3 linked regions of the Homo sapiens genome follow. The protein of the gene in region 2 interacts with the protein of the main gene of each other region in a biochemical or structural test. Each region holds a gene or a part of one and is shown on either strand. Other genes may lie near its edges.

Region 1 (7,038 bases), on a different chromosome or scaffold from region 2:
AGTAATTGACTCTGGGTCAGTTTGCCAACCACGAAACCCCAGCACAGCTTACTGTGCTTACGTGGCCAATTCCAATGTTTACGAGGTATATTAACTGAGCAACATCTTCTGTTTAAGTCAAATGTGGTAAGATATTTGTTATCATCTTGTACATATTAAATTCCTCATCAGAAAAAAGTTGGGATATTTATAGATAGTACATTCTGGTTAATAATGGAAGAGATCAGTTAATTAATGCCAAATCAGTTATTTAAAAACACCTGTTGGCTGCTTTTCTGTTACAACTTTGTCGGTAAGAGTTGATGAAATAACTTTTTTTTTCATAAAATGCTATGACAGACTGTACGTTAGGATATGATTATGTACATGCAAACAAATACCTACATAATTGACTAGGTGAAAAGTCAAATTTTTAAGCTAAAGATTTTCAATTATAAAAGCAATGTATGTTTATTTTGGAAAGGTTAAAACAGAAAAAGTATAAAGAACAAAGTCACCTGCACTACTACTAAAAACAAGAGATAACTGCTGTGAAGGTAACTTCCGTTCCATCTTTTTCAAAGTATGTATATATTTTTTAAAGAGGTAGCAGAATTATGCTTTGCTTTTTACTTGTTAGCTCACTAGTATTTCTCTACATTATTATTGACAGGATTACAGTACTACAGAAGCACATATGGTGGGTAACAGTCAATGAGAAGAGTGGGTCTCAATCATAGCTATACAGTAGAATCACTTGGGAAGCTTTAAAAAACCATGTCCTAGCTCCACCTCGTCTAATTACACCAGAATTTCAAAGGGTTCAGACAGGATCTCGGCTTTAAGTATCTAGGTAACTCTAAGGCACAGCCGGGGGTGAGAAGCACTGAAAAATATGAGTGAGCATTCCTGGCGTCCTACCGCCTACAAGTACCCACTCTGAATCTTTACAGAAGCTATAATTTGTGTTTCTTTAATTATAAGTATGGTTAGATATCTTTTTATAACTTTGACATTTGTATTTTTCCAAACTGTATCTATATCTATTTGGCGCTATTCCAAGTATTTTCATTATTATTATTATTTTTGATACGGAGTCTGGCTGTCACCCAGGCTGGAGTGCAGTGGCGCGATCTCTGCTCACTGCAAGCTCCGCCTCCCGGGTTCACGCCATTCTCCTGCCTCAGCCTCCCAAGTAGCTGGGACTAAAGGTACCCGCCACCACGCCCAGCTTTTTTTTTTTTTTTTGTATTTTTAGGGTTTTTTTTTGTTATTTTAGTAAAGATGAGGTTTCACCATGTTAGCCAGGATGGCCTCAATCTCCTGAACTCGTGAGCCGCCCACCTCAGCCTCCCAAAGTACTGGGATTACAGGCATGAGCCACTGTGCCCCACCTATCATTTCACTTTTAATAAGTCTCTGACATATTTGGGATTTCAGCACAGAGAGTGAGATGGGAACTCATCTTTTTTTCCCAAATGACTATCCAGTTATGCTACCAGCACAATTTATCCTTTTTATCAAAAGCTTGAATTTTCAAGGGTCTCTGGGGTCTACTTCTAGAATCTTTATTCTGTTCCACTGCAGTTTAACCACACAATGGAATGCTTTGCAATCATTAAAAGTCACTTAAAAAACTAATGGACGAACTATAATAAACTTGAAGATAACCTTGTTACTGAAGACATCAAATTATAAGAAAACTAGTTTTCTCTAAATTAGCTTATAAATTGAGTATTATCTCCAAAATATCTAACATACTAGCAAGACTTGTGTAATTTCAAACACTGATTCTAAAGTTCATTAGACGAAACAAGCATAGCAAAGAATATTTGACAGGCTGGGCGTGGTGGCTCACGCCTGTAATCCCAGCACTTTGGGAGGCTGAGGTGGGCGGATCACTTGAGGTCAGGAGTTCGAGACCAGCCTGGCCAACATGGTGAACCCCATCTCTACTAAAAATACAAAAATTAGCTGGGCATGGTGGTACGCACCCATCATCCCAGCTACTGGGGAGGCTGAGGCACGAGAATCGCTTGAGCCTCAGAGGTAGAGGTTGCAGTGAGCCAAGACTGAGCCACTGCACTCCAGCCTGGGTGACAGAGCAAGACTCGGTCTCGGAAAAAAAAAAAAAAATCCCACAAAAGAACAAAAAACTAATTACCCTAAGATATTTTTAAAAATGATAGCTTTTGGCAGTGCAGGGTGGCTCATGCCTGTAATCCCAGCACTTTGGGAGGCTGAGGTGGGTGGATCACATGAGATCAGGAGTTTGAGACCAGCCTAGCCAACATGGTGAAACCCGTCTCTACTAAAAATACAAAAATTAGCCGGGCATGGTGGCGGGTGCCTGTAGTCCCAGCTACTGGGTAGGCTGAGGCAGGAAAATCACTTGAACCTGTGGGAGGCAGAGGTTGCAGTGAGCCAAGAGCGTGCCGCTGCACTCCAGCCTGGGAGACAAAGTGAGACTCCATCTCAAAAAAAAAAAAAAAAAGCTTTTTAATAGCTATTGTATGAATTGTATGGTAATAAAAAGGAACAGAATAAGTGATAAATGGAATGAAAATCCAGAATCAAAACCCAAATAATGCAAGTGTGATAAAAGTGGCAATTCAAATCAATAAGGAAAAATGGATTATTCACTTTTATTCTAATCTAAATAAAATTAGATCCTTATTCAAACCAAAGCTACCAAAGTAATAAGAATTACATAAGTGTTTATTTTTAAGATCTTGGAAAAGGAAAGATCTTTCTAAACACAAAACCAAATTCACAGACCATTACAGAAAAAAGACTGGTATACTGAACTATAAACTTCAAATATAATGCACATAAGAATAGGCTGCCCTATTCTTTCCTGCAGCTTTTTATAATATATGGTCTGAGGAATGGTCAAATTCTAGTATATTTAGAAGTAGTTTTCCTTTAATTTCACATTTACACTGACCTTTGAAGTAGCAATTGGCGGAAGTTGCCACTCTGTGGGCTAATTGTCAGATGATGGGACAGGTAATTACACAGGCGAGCTCCCATATAAGAGAAATTTGGGATAGATGTGGCCTTTTAAAAAGAAGAAAAGTGTTATATGACATAGGTACATCATTATTAATGTAAATACTTAACAGCAACATTCTAAAGAAGAAAAAATTGACTCCCCAAACTGACCATATATACAAGTCTTTTGTCATTGTTAGGCTTAAGGAAATTAAATTCACTTTCCCTCCCAACCTTACAGCAAGAACCACAATAAGTACAAAAAAAAAAAAAAAAAGAAAAAACCCATCAGTTACCTGAGGCTACCAGAAAGCGAAGAGATAATGTCTCCTGATGCTAACCCATTTTTTGCAGAAAACCTGTACATGTCCTCAACTGCACAGTGACAATTATGAATGAGAATACTGCCAAACTGTTGACCAGTGGGGCTTCTTGGGGCAGGAAAGCACAGACTTTTTAGTGTTTGGCAGTCCAGGACAAGATTCCCTGGCATTTTGCTTCATGACTTTGGACATCAGTAAACCTCCCTGAGCTTCAGTTAGACTTTAAAGAGGTGATTAATGGTAACTGGCACAAGCAACTAACACTTAAACACTCCAAGAATGATTGGGTAAAGGGGAAATGAAAACAGCTAAGCTACTTAAAAACAGAAAAAAAAAAAAGTAAGAAAACACTACACATCAAAGATTGTTGATATAACTGAAGCAGTGTTCAGCAAGTTTAACTTTAATTGCAATTTCTAAAGAATAGTAGAGAACATAGTTTACCATCTAATATTAGGTAAGAAAACACACATTAAAAGGTTAAGAAGTCGGGCACAGTGGCTCATGCCTGTATTCCTAGTACTCTGGAAGGCCAAGGCCAGAGGATCGCTTGAGGCCATGAGTTCAAGACCAGCCTAGTCAACACAGTGTGACCACCATCTCTATAAAAAAATTTTAAAATTAGCTGGGCACGGTAGCATGCACCGTAGTCCCAGCTACTCTGGAGGCTGAGGTGGAAGGATCACTTGAGTGTAGGAGTTCAAGGCTGCAGTGAGCTGTGGTCACGCCACTGCACTCTAGTCTGGGTGACAAAACAAAGCCCCCATCTTTTTAAAAAAAAAAAAAAAAAAAAAAAAAAAGCTAAGGGACTTGGCCACAAATGTAATTGAACATAGAATCTAGATCTAACAAATGTCCTGCTACCCCTCTGACTCTATATGTTGGGTCTACTTACTAACTTTTATTTCTAATTATTTCCTTGCTCACATGGGGCCAGTATATGTCACATTAAGGGAGAAAGAGTGATTTCTCCTGACATCATGTATGTTTAGCTGGTACCCAAGACTTGGTTCACCCTTACATTTTTCCCATTATTGGCACTGCATGTTTTCCTTTAGCTTCTTTTTAGTGTTATAACACGATTTAAAGACAAGTTCTATAAGGCTTGTCATTCAACAGTTTCCTACTTACATCCCGGTTTTACTCCCAAAGACAACCACTTTTGACTTCTTCAGCCAAAAATGTTTTAATCCCCATATCTCCGCACTACGTAATTTTTCAGTTTAGATGTTATTTCTTACTGCAACTTGAGCATCCCTGTCCAAAAATCTAAAATCCTCCAAAAACAGAAAATATGAGTGTCCACATAATGCCAAAAGTGGAAAATTCCACACCTGACCTCATGTGACAGGTCAGTCAAAACACAGGTGTACAACACATAATTTATTCAGCATCCCCAAAGGAAAAAAGACCCTGTCAACCCCCTTCAGCTGTAATATACTTAGGTACCCTCCCTGAGGTGTCTCATTATATACTGGATATGCTAAATCTGAAAAAATCCATCTGAAATGCTTGAAATCTCAAGCATTTCAGATACGGGATACTCAACTTACAGTTTCCCATCATGGAAGATGAGCTTTTAGCTTTCACCCTGCTTAATTTCACCCCACTCTACTATTTCCTCCTATCACAGTATGGTTATGATTTTATTCATTTGCTGTGTTTTCATTTATAGCTGAACCATGTATTACACTGCTTTTACTTTTGCACAACTTTGTCTTCCCTAGATTCAGTTTTTACTACACTTTTATATTCTTCTCATTGATTTATCCCTAAACTCACTACTCTGTAAATTTCTTCTTATGTCTTACAGCATGTGTGCTCATCTTATTACGGAAGTCTTTCCTGGAGCCTTCTGACCTAGTCCAGTGAAGCCTGGCTGCTTCAGACCTACTATGCATGCTGCTATTGTTTTGAGATCTCCTTTGAACCATCATCTGGACAGTTCACTTAGTCTCTCCTGTAGAGTTCCTTTTCCTGGTTCCCATGTCTTCATCCGTGGCATAACTCCTCTTTTTGACAGAGTACGTCCTTTGTTAATTTCATAAGAAGGGTTACAACAAAATTTCAAACCGGCTGTTCAGTGTAAAAAGATCTGGATGGTCTAACTTTTTAGATTCTCAAGCAATCCTTTTAGCCTCATTCCATCCTTATTTTAGAACCTTTTAGGTTTTGCACTGTAAGTCATGGTGATTCTCAGCTTTACCACCACTGGCTTGGAATTCAACGTTAGATCTGCCAAATCAGGTACCACTCACCCACCTGCTTTCTAGTCTTCAAAACTAGTGCTTTTCTTTTCCTCTTCTCTGTCCCTATGAGCTTCCGCCTTTTAAAAATCCCCATAGCATCATTTTAGTGGTGTTTGGGAGATATCAGAGTTGAATGTGTATTTAATCTGTCATTTTTTTTTTTTTTGATTCAGAGTTTCGCTCGTTGCCCAAGCTGGAGTGCAGTGGCGCAATCTCGGCTCACTGCAACCTCCGCCTCCCGGGTTCAAGCGATTCTCCTGCCTCAGCCTCCCGAGTAGCTGGGATCACAGGCATGCACCACCAAGCCCAGCTAATTTTGTATTTTTTTTTAGTAGAGACAGGGTTTCTCCATGTTGGTCAGGCTGGTCTTGAACTCCTGACCTCAGGTGATCCACCCGCCTCGGCCTCCCAAAGTGCTGGGATTACAGACATGAGCCACTGCGCCTGGCCTAATCTGTCATCTTTTGTAATACTTCCTCGTTTGTTAGTTGCTATGAGTAAATTTCCATAAATTACCTCAATGAAACTTAGCAGCTATTGATAAACCTATGCATCATTGATCATAGAATATTAAAACATTAAACATACTGACTACATATTTGACAATCAGAGAAATAGTTGACGCTTATCAGGTTACTGACCCTTTGTCCAGCCCTGAATAAGTATAATTACGCAGCCTACTGAATAACTGAAACTAAATAGTGGAGGAAGCCAGAAAGGCAACAAGAAATAAATACATTTGTTTCATTTTCTTATCTCATATTCCTTTTCAATCCATTTATCAGCAGAAAGCAGAAATGAGGACAAACAGTGCAGTTCTGTCTTCCTAACATCTCAGGTACTTCCTCAAAACTGACAGTTGGCTAGGTAATCTTGGGGTCCAGTAACCATCCAGAATAACTTGGAAAAGCAGCCAAATGAAACATTAGGATAGAAAATAATCATTAATTTGCATTATAATCTCCCTTCCATATATTCCAAATTTGAGTTGCTCTTGTAACAGTGACTTAAAGAACCTAAAGTTTACATTTCTGATCATGGCCCATTTTTTTTGACCAGTCTCACACTGACTAAGAAATTTTGTGTTAAGCCAGTGTTGTCTACTGTATTTTTCACTTTTAAAATAGCATTAATGAGGCCAGGTGCAGCGGCTCATGTCTGTAAAATCCCAGCATTTTGGGAGACCAAGGCAAGCAGATCACTTGCGGTCAGGAGTTCGAGACCAGCCCGGTCAACACGGTGGAACCCTGTCTCTATCAAAAATACAAAAATTAGCTGGGCATGGTGGTGCACACCTGTAATCTCAGCTACCTGGGAGACTGACGCAGGAGAATCGCTTGAACCCGGGAGACGGAGGTCGCAGGGAGCTGAGACTGCGCCACTGCACTCCAGCCTGGGAGACAGGGCAAGACTCCATATCAAAAAAAAAAAAAAAAAAAAAAAAAAAGCGTTAATATGTTAATGACCAATATGCTGGGATAAAAACTAAATGT
Region 2 (7,038 bases):
TGAAAAAAAAAATCCCCAAAGGATCATATGCTTTTTTATTTTATATATTTTTAATTGTTCTTGTTGCTGTGTAGGGAGTGGAGACGTGGAGAAGGGCGAGATGAGGACAGGTCTCATAGAAGAGATGAAGAGCGGCCCCGGCGTCTGGGGGATGATGAAGATAGAGAGCCCTCTCTTAGACCAGACGATGATCGGGTTCCCCGGCGTGGCATGGATGATGACAGAGGCCCTAGACGTGGTCCTGAGGAAGATAGGTTCTCTCGTCGTGGGGCAGACGATGACCGGCCTTCCTGGCGTAACACAGATGATGACAGGCCTCCCAGACGAATTGCCGATGAAGACAGGGGAAACTGGCGTCATGCGGATGATGACAGACCACCTAGACGAGGACTGGATGAGGACAGAGGAAGCTGGCGAACAGCTGATGAGGACAGAGGACCAAGACGTGGGATGGATGATGACCGGGGGCCGAGGCGAGGAGGCGCTGATGATGAGCGATCATCCTGGCGTAATGCTGATGATGACCGGGGTCCCAGGCGAGGGTTGGATGATGATCGGGGTCCCAGGCGAGGCATGGATGATGACCGGGGTCCCAGGCGAGGCATGGATGATGACCGGGGTCCCAGGCGAGGCATGGATGATGACCGGGGTCCCAGGCGAGGGTTGGATGATGATCGAGGACCTTGGAGGAACGCCGATGATGACAGAATTCCCAGGCGTGGTGCAGAGGATGACAGGGGCCCTTGGAGAAACATGGATGATGATCGCCTTTCAAGACGTGCTGATGATGATCGGTTTCCCAGACGGGGTGATGACTCAAGACCTGGTCCTTGGAGACCATTAGTCAAGCCAGGTAAAATTCTATTTCCTAGAATATGCTTAAGTGTTCACCTGTAAAAGTGAAATTCTGATGGATAAATATCAGGGCTGTATTGTTATTTTCCAGATAAACTGGTCTTTCATCTTTCCTTCAGTATCATTTGCAGTGACTTCGCTGTCAAAAGTTTGCCTTCAGAATACCACCATCCAAAACATAAATAACCCAACCCCTCTCTTCTTTAGTGATGTGCTCTTTGTTTTCCTTCTGCTTCGATGACTGCTTCTTTGAAGGCTCTTCCTGTACTCATGCTTTCAGTATTGGTGTATTTTTCAGGTTTTACTGGGAACCAGCCTCCTTTTAAAAATAAATAATTGAAACCAAAATGTACTTTATATATTTATTTTTGCCAACTGAGAGATTATGCAAGGAGGAACTCATTTTACTTTACTTTTTTTGAGACAGGGTCTTGCTCTGTTGCACAGGCTGGAATGCAGTGGTGCAGTCATGGCTCACTGCAACCTTGACCTCCCGGACCCTAGGGAGCCTCCCACTTCAGCCTTCTGAGTAGCTAGGACTACAGGCGCATGCCACCACACCCTGCTAATATTTTATTTTTTGGAGAGACGGGGTTTCGCTATGTTGCCCAGGCTGGTCTCAAACTCCTGGGCCCAAGTTATCCTTCTGCCTCTCCCTCCCAAAGTGAAGTGCTGGGATAACGGGTGTGAGGCGCTGCGCCCAGCCTCATTTTTTTTCTTAGTCCTGGGCCTGCTTATTGTTTCACACTTTATTATTCGTGAGCAGTTGTATACATGTTTGTGACATGCGTCTATTACCATTTTTTTTCTTTTTGAGGTGGAGTCTTGCTCTGTCTCCCAGGCTGGAGTGCAGTGGTATGATCTCAGCTCACTGCAACCTCTGCCTCCCAGGTTCAAGCAATTCTCCTGCCTCAGCTTCCCAAGTAGCTGGGACTACAGGCACATGCCACCATGCATGGCTAATTTTTTTTTTTTTTTTTTTTTTTGGAGACGGAGTCTCGCTCTGTCATCTGGCTGGAGTGCAGTGGCGCGATCTCCCCTCACTGCAAGTTCTGCCTCCCAGGTTCATGCCCTTCTCCTGCCTCAGCCTCCTGAGTAGCTGGGACAACAGGTGCCTACCACTATGCCTGGCTAATTTTTTGTATTTTTAGTAGAGATGGGGTTTCACCATGGTAGCCAGGATGGTCTCGATCTCCTGACCTCTTGATCCGCCTGCCTCAGCCTCCCAAAGTGCTGGGATTACAGGCATGAGCCACCACGCCCGGCCATTTTTTTGTATTTTTAATAGAGATGGGGTTTCACCATGTTGGCCAGGCTGCTCTCGAACTCCTGACCTCAAGTGATCCACCCACCTCGGCCTCCCAAAGTGCTAGGATTACAGGCGTGAGCCACTGCCCCGGCCAGTTTTCTCTAGGTAATTTCTGCGTACTGCACACAGGTGACAGCTGCTTACTGCATATAGCACATCTCCACTTGGTAGTCTTACTGAATGTCTAACACAGCCTATCCAAAACTGGACTCATTACCATCACATACACGTGCACTTGTTCACGCCCACCCATCCCTCTGATTCTCTTCAGGGGCATCACTGTCCATCTAACTGTCTGAGCTAGGATTCTGGGAGTTGTTTTGTCTCTGTTTCATCCTTTATGTTAAATCTTTAGTTCAGTTCTGCCTTTTTGATGTTCCTGAAATCCACCCTCCTCTCCATTCCCATTGCTTGTACTTGGTCCTGGGTCAGCATCATTTTCCTCACCCGCTAACTGGTTTTTGCTGCCTCTCTTACTCCCAGTTTTAATTTTGGGTGTCAGGGAAATAACCAGAGCAGTTGTTGTAAGTGCAGATCTAAGTGAGCTGCTTCCTTGCTTTCCCCAGTTGTTTCTGTTGCCTACTTCGTCTCTTCTAGTCTCACTTCATTCTGCTGTTCGGCTGTTACCTTGTGTAAGACATTTAATTTTTCTTTTCCTCATGTTAAATGGGGTAACAGTATAGCAGATTCTTACTAATTTGCTAATTATATTTTATACAGTTGCCATGAATACTGAACTCATGTTCCTAGGGTAAATACAAGGTTAGGTTCTTGTAAGCTTCTAGTCATGATATTTTTGTCAACCAATCAATACATAAAATGTCTTTTATGTGTTTGTGTTTAAAGACTCCCTATTTCTGATATGTTGTTGATTCATTACCATTGAATTCATGGTCAACAGCATTATAACTCATTCATGAACAAAGCTTATCTAATACATGTATTTTCTCCTTAAGGCATATCATAGCCACCTTGTGCTTGGGGCCACTAAACAGCATTTGTTTTTTCTCTTTTTGAGGTGGGGCCTCACTGTCTCCCAGGCTGGAGTGCAGTGGCGTGATCTCAGATCACCGCAACCTCTGCCTCCTGGGCTCAAGAGATCCTACCACATCAGCCTCCTGAGTAGTAGACTATAGGTGCACACCACCAAGCCCAGCTAATTTTTGTATTTTTTTGTAGAGATGTGGTTTTGCCATGTTGCCCAGGCTGGTCTTGAACTCCTGGGCTCCAGGGATCCACCCTCCTCAGCCTCCCAAATTCCTGAGATTACAGGCATGAGCCACCACGCCTGGCCACTAGACAGCATTTTAGCACTACACTTGGAGGCCATTTTAAACAGTGAGGTCACCAGCAAATTTACATCTCTATATGTACTGTATATAAAATGTTCCTAGATTCATATATTCCATGCATAAGTGTGAGCCACTGTGCAGGGTTAAAGGATTTATTCATGATTAATGACTAGATAATGGGTGGCAAATGGTGGAGGACAGGAATATAAAAGGAAAGATTGTTTTTTGGATATGAAGGGCTTGAAAACGTTGCAAGGTATAAATACCTCAAAATTGGGACTCAGAGAAAACTCTTGAAGTTTCTGCTTAAATGAGTGATCTGTGTAACATCAGAACAGATACTATGCTGAAATCTGCGTGCAATAGGAAAAATTCTAAAATTTTCAGTGATACTTTTGTTTTATGGAACACTTAACACAGATCATTTAAGGTTTTTGGTATTTTTTTTTCTTTTCCTGTTTGTTTTTTGAGACAGTCTCATTCTGTCATCCAGGCTGGAGTACAGTGGCACTATCTTGGCTCACTGCAGCCTCTGCCTCCCAGGTTCAAGCAGTTCTCATGCCTCAGCCTCCTAAGTCAAGTAGCTAGGACTACAGGCGCACCACCACACCTGGCTAATTGTAGTTTTAGTAGCAACAGGGTTATTACCATGTTGGCCAGGCTGGTCTCGAATTCCTGACCTTAAGTGATCCACCTGGCTCGGTCTCCAAAAGTGCTGGGATTACAGGTGTGAGCCACCATGCCCGGCCCATTTTAAGTTTCTCATATAAGTTTAAGATACTGTTAATGATGTCTGTGCAGTGATGTACACAGCTTTAGTATTTTTTTAATCAGTGTCTTAAATTAGCATTTAGAATGATGATGAATTAATGCCAACGTCTATTCATGATTGCCAATCTGTTTCTTCTTTTAAAAATATTTTAAAAATGTTTTGCTTTTTCAAAAAAACAGGTGGATGGAGAGAGAAAGAAAAAGCCAGAGAGGAGAGCTGGGGTCCACCTCGAGAATCAAGGCCATCAGAAGAACGTGAATGGGACAGAGAAAAAGAAAGGGACAGAGATAATCAAGATCGGGAGGAGAATGACAAGGACCCTGAGAGAGAAAGGGACAGAGAGAGAGATGTGGATCGAGAGGATCGCTTCAGAAGACCTAGGTGTGATGCTCTAATTAAATTATTTGTAGAGGCCGGGCGCAGTGGCTCATGCCTGTAATCCCAGCACTTTGGGAGGGCGGATCACCTGAGTTCAGGAGTTCGAGAGCAGCCTGGCCAACATAGTGAAACCCCATCTCTACTAAAAAATACAAAATTAGCCGGGCGTGGTGGCGCATGCCTGTAATCCCAGCTACTCAGGAGGCTGAGGCAGGAGAATTGCTTGAACCCGGGAGGCAGAGGTTGTGGTGAGCCGAGATAGCGCCATTGCACTCCAGCCTGGGCAACAAGAGCAAAACTCCGTCTCAAAAAAAAAAAAAAAAAAAAAAAAAATTCCCTCTTAAAGTAAGAAAATGGAGGCCCAAACTTCGTGGCTGTCCAAAGGCTGTGTGACCCGTTGGGCATTGGAACCAGTCCAGCCATCTTTGTCAGTCCGTTGCTTTTACCCCTGTGGTTTAGGGCAGTCAGTTTTCTTGCCCTTAAATTATCAAAAGCCCTTTGATTTTATTAGTAGTAGAAGTTCTAGCTTGTTCCCGCTGCCAAAGTGTCCTTGTACTGACAAATGTAGACCAGCAGTGTTCGATGCAATTTTCTTCAAGGAAGAAAATGTGTCTGCTGGCCAGTATGGTAGTCAGCAGTCACATTTGGCAGCCAAGCACTTAGAATATATGGTTGATGGTCCTAAGGAAATATCTCCGTTTTACTTTAAATGTAAGTAACCACATATGGGTAGTGGCTAACGAGTGGGACGGCACAGATCTGGGTGTTCTCATTTGTTCTCCACGCCCCAGGCATCAGGTAAGGTCAGGTTATGAGTTTAAACTGTCTGTTATATTTGTAAACTCTAAGCCCCAGCTTGGACTGGATGTACTTATAATTATCCATTTGGTCTAACAGTAAGAACCTGACCTGTCATTGTAAATGGCTACAGGGATGAAGGTGGCTGGAGAAGAGGACCAGCTGAGGAATCTTCAAGCTGGAGAGACTCAAGTCGCCGGGACGATAGGGATAGGGATGACCGTCGCCGTGAGAGGGATGACCGGCGTGATCTAAGAGAAAGACGAGATCTAAGAGACGACAGGGACCGAAGAGGACCTCCACTCAGATCAGAACGTGAAGAAGGTATAGAGGTTACATACAACTGAAGTATTGGAGAACTGTCGTTTCTGGGGGGGGGGGGATTTGGGTTATTTAATTATATCATAAATTTGTATGAAGGCCAACAATAAGAGAGTTGATATTCTATTTAGAATTCATGATTTTCATACAGTTACTCAATGGTCATGTTGTAAAGTGCACTTATCTCTAAATTCAAAGTACAGTAGTAGACTAAATTGGATAGCAGGCAATATATATAAAGTTTACTTAATAAAAATGAAAAAAATTGTTATTTAAAAGCAGCTTCCTGGCAGATTAAGCACAAAGTAGAAACATTTTCTCTGAAATTGTAACAGAAGTTTATTCTGTTTTAAAATATATGTATTTTTCATTTTTAAAATCCTCATTTTTCTCTTGGTTTTTAAAAATTAATTTTCCATATGTCTTGACATCCTGTTATGAGAGAATTTTTCTCTCATAGCCATAACTTTAAAAACTCCTGTATTTTGTATGGTTAATTTGCTGTTAAAATTCTTCAAGAGCCAAAAATCCTTTCAGTTATAAAATTTTCATTCAGCCAGATTTTTGCCACCTTGTCTTACGGGTTTATACTAACTGTAGTCCTTCCCAGGCTAGTGGTTTCTGCCTGTTTTCAGATTTTGAGTTTTATCTGTACATTTGTATGTTAAAGATTGTCAGAAATTGTATGAGCTTTCATTATGATTTCTGTATTTAACAATACAGAATTTAACAGAATTTCTGTATTTAACAATGATTTCTGTATTTAACAATCTTTAGTACAGGAATTTTGAGTAATTTGAGCCAATAGAATATAGTACTAACTTAATTTTTTTTTTTTAATTAAACTTTTTAGTAAGTTCTTGGAGACGTGCTGATGACAGGAAAGATGACCGGGTGGAAGAGCGGGACCCTCCTCGTCGAGTTCCTCCCCCAGCTCTTTCAAGAGACCGAGAAAGAGACCGAGACCGAGAAAGAGAAGGTGAAAAAGAGAAGGCCTCATGGAGAGCTGAGAAAGATAGGGAATCTCTCCGTCGTACTAAAAATGAGACTGATGAAGATGGATGGACCACAGTACGACGTTAAGTCTCAAGATAATGGATTTAAACTGGTGTCTTAAATAGGTTTGATCACATTCAAGGATTATTATACTTGTGCTTCAACCAATCTAAATTGGATTCTTTAATGTTGTTTCACCATAACACAAAAAGCATGAACTTGTATTAATCCTATATAATAGATTGATCATGCACCATATCCACAGGAGGTTGGAAAAACCATGCCATTTTCTGGAATTTAAGGGTGTTGCATTATTT
Region 3 (7,038 bases), on a different chromosome or scaffold from region 2:
TATACTTGTAGGCATAACTACATGTATTAATAAGGGAAAATGCCCATGACAAATTAAGTGGAAATGCGAGGTGCAAAGCAACCATTTGGTAGTAGTTTGACCTGGGGCAAATTACTTAATATCTTTGTACCTTAGTGTTCTTTTCTGTAATTGGAGATGGAGACTGTTGTAGGTATTAATACACATAAAGGGATCAGAAGAGTGTCTGGTCCACTCAACAAGTTTTAGCTATCATTAGCATATAATGCAGTAAAAAACAATATGTGTGTATACATGTAATTATGTTTTAATGTTGATTAATATAATTGAGCAATGTGGTTATTATTTTTATGATGATCTAATTTTTGTACCATTTCTATGTGATTAAGTATATTTTAAATGAATATGGTTATATGTGTGAGCTTAAAGAAGTGGTGTTAAAATTTTATTTTAGAGGCTAATTTTTATTATTCTCGTTTAAATGTTATTTATTTTTATAATGGAGGAAAAGGACAAATTGACATGAACTGTCTATATTTATGTTAGTTCTTTCATTCTTCCCCATTTCTGATGCTCCTTGGAACTTAAGCCTTTCAATCCCTCATTCCCTCACTCCCTGGCACTTACTTAGATGTTAACTTCTTTTTAATTTGTTGAGAATTTAATAGGTATAAATTGAGAGGCAAATGGACTGGTTTGTTTCCAGTTCTGCCACTTTCACATAATGTAAATAGTCTATAATATAATAATCCTTCAATTCTTGGGGAATAGTAAGTTAATATTTTCTTATCCCCTACACAGTTAGTGGAATAATCATGTCATCAGGGTGGAGACACTTAAGTCTCTATCAATGCCAGTGAATTTTGCATTGGCGCAAAATAATGGAAAATCAGCAAGGCCCCTGTGGTGATAGTGGCCCCTGAGGAATTTCCATGGCAAGCCTAATAACTGCTGAAATGGAGAAAGTAACAGTAGAATGTAGTCAAAGCACAAAGCAGAGGAGAGTCAGGAGAGAGAAGGGCATCCCACAGGGCTGACTACTCTTAGAATTTAATACAGGAAGTGGGTTTTTCGTTTTATTTGCTTTGAGCTTACATTCAAATTTTCTAGGGTTGCTACTTTTTTAGTTCCCTGCCTCTGGGGCAAGAGAATCTAAAAGTTTACCAAAAAAACATCAAGAACCTAGAAAACCCCTTTCTCCCTCAACAGTCTTGTTTTGAAGACTGTTGTATTCCGTGAGCTCAGAAAAGTATATATTAAATGTCAAAAGCTTAACTTCGACTCTTTCCTGTTTTTTTTTTTTGTTTGTGTGGGGCTTTTTTTTGTTTCTATGTTTTTGCCGTACAAATTCTATTCAGAGAAAATGGGTACATGTAGCAGGGGAAGAGGTAGTCGCCCAAGGAAGTGGAAAAACTTGAAAAACAATACATTTCAGAAAACATGTCCATCATGTATACTTAACTCTCTTGCATGCACATAGTCAAACATAAATCCATCTGTTTACATATCATCCAAATATCTCTTTTCCTTTCCATGAATGTTATCTACAGCTGTGAGTAAATTAACTGAGAAGAAAGGAACTCTGCCTGCTCAAGTCACTTTCCACAGCATCCAGTTTATCATGAAATGAATTACTATGCTTTGCATATGACCTTCTGTTTGTGTGCCACGTAGCCATGGATGTTCACAGTTTATCTTCCCACTTCAGTCCTTTGCTTCATAGACATGGTTCCTTTTTTTTTCTTTTTCTTTTTCTTTTTTTTTTTTTTTTTTTGACCCACAGCTTCTCCTCTTCCTTAAAGCCTTTTCCGAAACAGAGCAGACAAAGTTGGCGATGCTGTCGGGGATTCTGCTGGGCAATGGCACCCTGCCCGCCACCATCCTCACCAGTCTCTTCACCGACAGCTTAGTCAAAGAAGGTAACGAGGCTCCTGTTTTCTCGCCTGTCAGACAACAAAAGAAAAATAAAGTCACAGATAGTTAGAAAAATGCCAGTGGCTCTTTTTGGTGTCCTCTATTACTCATTCTTCATTTAAGAGAATATCTTTGTATGGGTGTATATTGCCTTTCAAATAATAAAAGGAGTGGACTTGTTAATTGTAGGAAGTTTGAAGGAAAAAATATGCACACCTGTACAAAGACATATTAAGAAAGACTAATAGCAAATTAAAATCTCATGGAAGACTTGATGCCTAGGTCAAATACCCCGAAATCGATCTGGTAATCTTTTTGCCCTTCGACACAAAATGGCAGCCTTTAACTTTCACCCCTATTATAAGAACAAAAACTGTTCCCCTCTCAAGGTCTAGAGAAACTGATGCTCAGATATTCATTTTGATTGCACTTTTTAAGATACTCATTGTCTCAGTTTTAGAAAACAATTTTAAGTCTGCTGCATTAGAAGGAGTCTTGTTTTAATTTTAAGGCATTAAGGGTTGGATAGGCATGCATACCATGGTTTGGTTATAGAATAAAATAAAAGTCGGCTGTTTACTTGTAGGAGGATAATGATAGTCAAATTACAATGCAACACAAAACAGTTATTTTTCCTTAAAAATAAATTAAAAGAGCTTTTGTGAGAACATCTGTTTCTTCTGAGAACTTAAAGTTTTCCTCCTACATATATGAAGTCCTAGCTTCATTCATGCCTATAGTGAAAGAAAGGAGTCATAGTTTTCTTGTAGCTAAGGAAAGAATAGTAAATTGAGAGTCAATTGGTCTTATTCAGAGACTCTTCCTAGTTTTTAGCTTAAAATCACTCAGATTTATGACAATTCAGACTCTGTAATTGTTAGATGTTATTAGTATTATGACATTTTAAAGTATTTCCCTGAAGAAAATTCACAATACAACACACATCTTATTTTTGCTATTAGCCATTTTGCACACAGAAAGTCAACATAGAATATAAATGTTAATCATTAATTATTTTAAATTATCCTAGCCAACATAACAGAAAATAATTGCCTTTCTAGTTTTTTTAAAAACCTAAGTGATGTCTGTAACTTCCTTTGTAATATATCCAAAAATTACGTTATTAGGTGGATAGATATCTGATAAAGCAAATACGGCAAAATATTAGTTATAGAAACTAGATGGTGGGCATGTGAATGTTCATTGTTCAATTTGTTCAACTTTTCTGTATGTCTGGAAATTATTGTAGTAAAATGTTTGGGGGGTGGTGAGGAGAAAAATAACTTTGCTATGGAAGTAACATAGTACCTCTGTTATATGGCTTTTCCTTAAACTCTGCCATCTTTTACAAACTAGAGGTTTAAACCCTTGCTTCCTAATTGGAAAAGGATTAAGAAAATGCTGGGTATGGTAACTCATGCCTGTAATCCTAACACTTTGGGAAGCTGAGGTAAAAAAATTGCTTGAGGCCAGGAGTTTGAGACCAGTCTGGGAAACAAAGCAAGACTCTCTTCTCTACAAAAAAAAATTTAAAAACTAGCCAGGTGTGTTGGCACACCTGTACAATCCCAGCTGCTCAGGAGACTAAGGCAAGAGGATTGCTTGAGCCCAGGAGTTTGGGGCTACAGTGAGCTATAATCACATCATCTTACTACAGCCTGGGCAACAGAGAAAGACTATCTAAAATAAAAAAAAAGAAATAAAGAAAATGGTTAAGAAATTAATCATTTTCCCCAGCTCATCCAATAAATGACCAAGGGAGATGGGATTATCCTACTCAGAGGAGTAACTATAAAGAAAGTTAAATCTCAGTTTTAGGCTCCTAGTTTCAAGCGTAGTTTTTCTTTACGATACAGATTACAGCCTAGTGTTAATTTATATTAAATTTTATATTGGTTTTATGAGCTAATGATAATGCTAAAAATTCATCTTAAGTTGTTTAACATGAACTTTCAGTTAAGGTGTAATGCATGTTTTGTTGTTATAGCCGTTTTTGTTTTTTTTTTAACTTAGTTTCTTTGCTTATTCAAGGGAAGAAAATCAGGTTTAGTTGGTGTCTATATGAATGATAGACCAATTAAATGCTTTTACTTTCCAGTTGCTGGAAGACCTGGGTCAAATTGGTATATAAGGACATGGATTTCTTATGTAACAATAAATAGAAAATTAGGACAGACCTCAGGCTGAACAGCAGTATCATTCAGGACTTAAGTATTTTTCTCCTGTTATCATTCATAGCATTAACTTCATCCCAAGGATGGTGCCCCCTCTAGTTGTTATAAGATGCCTGCTGACACAGTTATGGCATATTCTTCCTGGTTCAGGTTCAGTGGAAGAACACTTCTCCTGAACAGAGGATAATTTATCTTTCCTTCAGCTGATTGGCTGACACAGGCTGCATGACTAGTGCAGGTCCAGTAGCAATTGCCAGGGGCGTGCCTTGGGCAGATGAGCTTAAGCGAGGTCACTAAATTAATCATCAGAAAGGGGTGGTACCAGGACTTAGACTAATCAGTAGTCACCTGGACTGGATAAAAGGGGACCTCTTTTAGGAAGGAGGTAAAGAGAATAGAGGCTGCTTAGGCCACATTATCATTAGCTCATAACAATAGTAGAACCTTCAGTTTAGAAAAATCAGTTAAATGTTTCAGTTACATCTTAACTCTTCATTAAATAACCGCAACATAAATTTAGAAATTTGAAGTGTTCATAGAACTGTCTTCTTGTTATCTGATTATTTCTATTTGGAAATAAGTGGTAATGTAAATGTGGACATGTGATTAAATGGTTTCCTGATTTAACATAACTAGCTTAATAATGATTTTTTTTTAAATCCAGAAGAGTTTAACTTGAAACAGCCTTGGTATTTTTATAGCTTAACTCAAGAATATTTTAAAATGCTTTTTATGGCTGCGTGCAATGGCTCATGCCTGCAATCCCAGCAATTTGGGAGGCCAAGGCAGGTGGATCACCTGAGGTCAAGCGTTCAGGACTAGCCTGCCCAACATGGCGAAACCCTGTCTCTACTAAAAATACAAAAATTAGCTGGGTGTGGTGGTGCATGCCTGTAATCCCAGCTACTTGGGAGGCTGAGGCAGGAGAATCACTTGAACCCAGGAGGTGAAGATTGCAGTGAGCCGAGATCGTGCTACTTCACTCCAGCCTGGGCGACAGAGTGAGACTCCATCCCCCCAAAAATAAAAATAAAAATAAATAAATAAAATGCTTTTTATAAAAAGCAAAACTAAGGTAAATGATATGTGTTCATCTATTCGTAGCAATACTTATTGTATCTATCACTATCAGTGTTCTTGTACTGGCATCCTTTATTAGCAAATTACTTGATAAAGGTGACATTACAGTTTTGTGTCTCCTAATTTACTTTCTTGTGCCTCAAGATCACTGTTATAAAGATGAAATACATATGAACCAGAGGGTGAAATAAAGGCAATAACACCAAAGATACTGGGTGTGAAATATGTTTTTGACCAAGGTAAAATAAAATAAACTTGCAGTTAGACCAGGTTGGATTCAAGGAGTCCAAATTTGAAAAATATTTTAATTTATTTTCCTTTTCCTGAAAATGTTCTAGTTTGAGTAATGAGAAGAGGAGAATTTGCCTAGAGGTCTATTGACTTTTCATTTGTACCAAAATTAGTCTTTTAGTTATTTACACATTTCAGGAAACCTGGTTGCTTTGCACACCATCACAATTGGTTTTGCTCGTAAAAGGAATGAAATTCTCTTTTGTTTTTCAACAGGCATTGCGGCCTCATTTGCTGTCAAGCTTTTCAAAGCATGGATGGCAGAAAAAGATGCCAACTCTGTTACCTCGTCTTTGAGAAAAGCCAACTTAGACAAGAGGCTGCTTGTAAGTGTTTTCTGGTTAAAGAGTTGTATGTATGATGCCTTTCTTGGAGCTTAAGCAATGCCTGCAATGTAGTATATGAGTAAGATCCCTGGATCTGTGTTGACTTGGAGCACTGTTCCTTTTATTTCTGTGTAATTGGTAGTAGAAGCTAATTTCATTTTAATCTTTATTTTGTGAACAAATGGCACAATAAAATTAAAGAATTGTGAAGAATATAGACTTCCAAATTTGTAAGTTTGTTGACATAGTATTAACATTTCATCAGAATTAAGACTTTGTTTTATAGCCATAACTTTTTTACTTTTTTTTTTTTTGAGACAGAGTCTGGCTCTGTCACCCAGGCTGGAGTGCAATGGCACAATCTCGCTCACTGCAACCTCTGCCTCCGGAGTTCAAACAATTCTCCTGCCTCAGCCTCCCGAGTAGGTGGGATTACAGGTGCTCTCCACCACACCCAGCTAATTTTTGGATTTTTTTTAATAGAGACGGGGTTTCACCATGTTGGCCAGGTTAGTCTTGAACTCCTGACCTCAAGTAATCCGCCCACCTCAGCCTCCCAAAGTGCTGGGATTATAGGCGTGAGCCACCACACTCAGCCTATAATCATAACTTTCTAGACATTTTAAGGTTTTAATATGATAAAAATTTCATCAATCTCACTTAATCAAATACTTGTGATGTCTGTCTTGAGTAGCAGTCAGACTGTGCTAATCTCAAATGTGTGTTAAATAGTTTGCTAACAAAATAAAAGTTTAAACAAGATTTCCCTGGAAATACTTAAGCTGTTGCAGAAATTAAACAAGTTAATTGTGTCACAATTGCTTGATTATATTTTTATTTCTCCATCTTTGTGTTTTTCTAAGAAAATCCAGAAAAATATTTTGTTCTTGTAATTTCTATCTGCTCCCTACAATTTCTTTCTTCTTGATGCAGCAGCTGTGAAATGCCAAGATTTCTCCAGGTGGAATTGCTTTTACAGTTCTAGGATGAAGTGTAAAAATAAGACACAGCGCTGCCATCTCTTCACCTGGCCTGTTCTCTGTTGTTCTCTTCCAATGTGTTTCAGTGTGCAAGGGTCCAGTCCCATGAGATAATTCTAAGACTATCTCTTTTCCTCAAGAACACATGAAAGTAATTTTAAATGTAAATACTTGCAATTTAAATCACTTAAGAATACTTTGTTTCTTGAAGTTTACCTTAAATAGATTTGTGTGTTTAAAGTTTTTAGATTATGGTAAAAAAGGTACAGAAGTCTAGATTCTAGTTCATAATAA

Evidence for each region.
Region 1: the proteins of EIF3A (region 2) and PAIP1 form a complex in vitro, tested with the Homo sapiens proteins (one study listed by BioGRID).
Region 3: the proteins of EIF3A (region 2) and BZW2 form a complex in vitro, tested with the Homo sapiens proteins (one study listed by BioGRID).

What each region holds. Positions count from the first base shown.
Region 1 is NC_000005.10:43,540,078-43,547,115, forward strand, and holds part of PAIP1 (polyadenylate-binding protein-interacting protein 1), read right to left. Parts: intron 3,040-7,038; coding exon 2,927-3,039; intron 1-2,926. UniProt on the Homo sapiens protein: Acts as a coactivator in the regulation of translation initiation of poly(A)-containing mRNAs. Its stimulatory activity on translation is mediated via its action on PABPC1. Competes with PAIP2 for binding to PABPC1.
Region 2 is NC_000010.11:119,035,809-119,042,846, reverse strand, and holds part of EIF3A (eukaryotic translation initiation factor 3 subunit A), read left to right. Parts: intron 1-74; coding exon 75-853; intron 854-4,407; coding exon 4,408-4,609; intron 4,610-5,537; coding exon 5,538-5,728; intron 5,729-6,578; coding exon 6,579-6,808; 3' UTR 6,809-7,038. UniProt on the Homo sapiens protein: RNA-binding component of the eukaryotic translation initiation factor 3 (eIF-3) complex, which is required for several steps in the initiation of protein synthesis.
Region 3 is NC_000007.14:16,684,143-16,691,180, forward strand, and holds part of BZW2 (eIF5-mimic protein 1), read left to right. Parts: intron 1-1,762; coding exon 1,763-1,898; intron 1,899-5,654; coding exon 5,655-5,764; intron 5,765-7,038. UniProt on the Homo sapiens protein: Translation initiation regulator which represses non-AUG initiated translation and repeat-associated non-AUG (RAN) initiated translation by acting as a competitive inhibitor of eukaryotic translation initiation factor 5 (EIF5) function.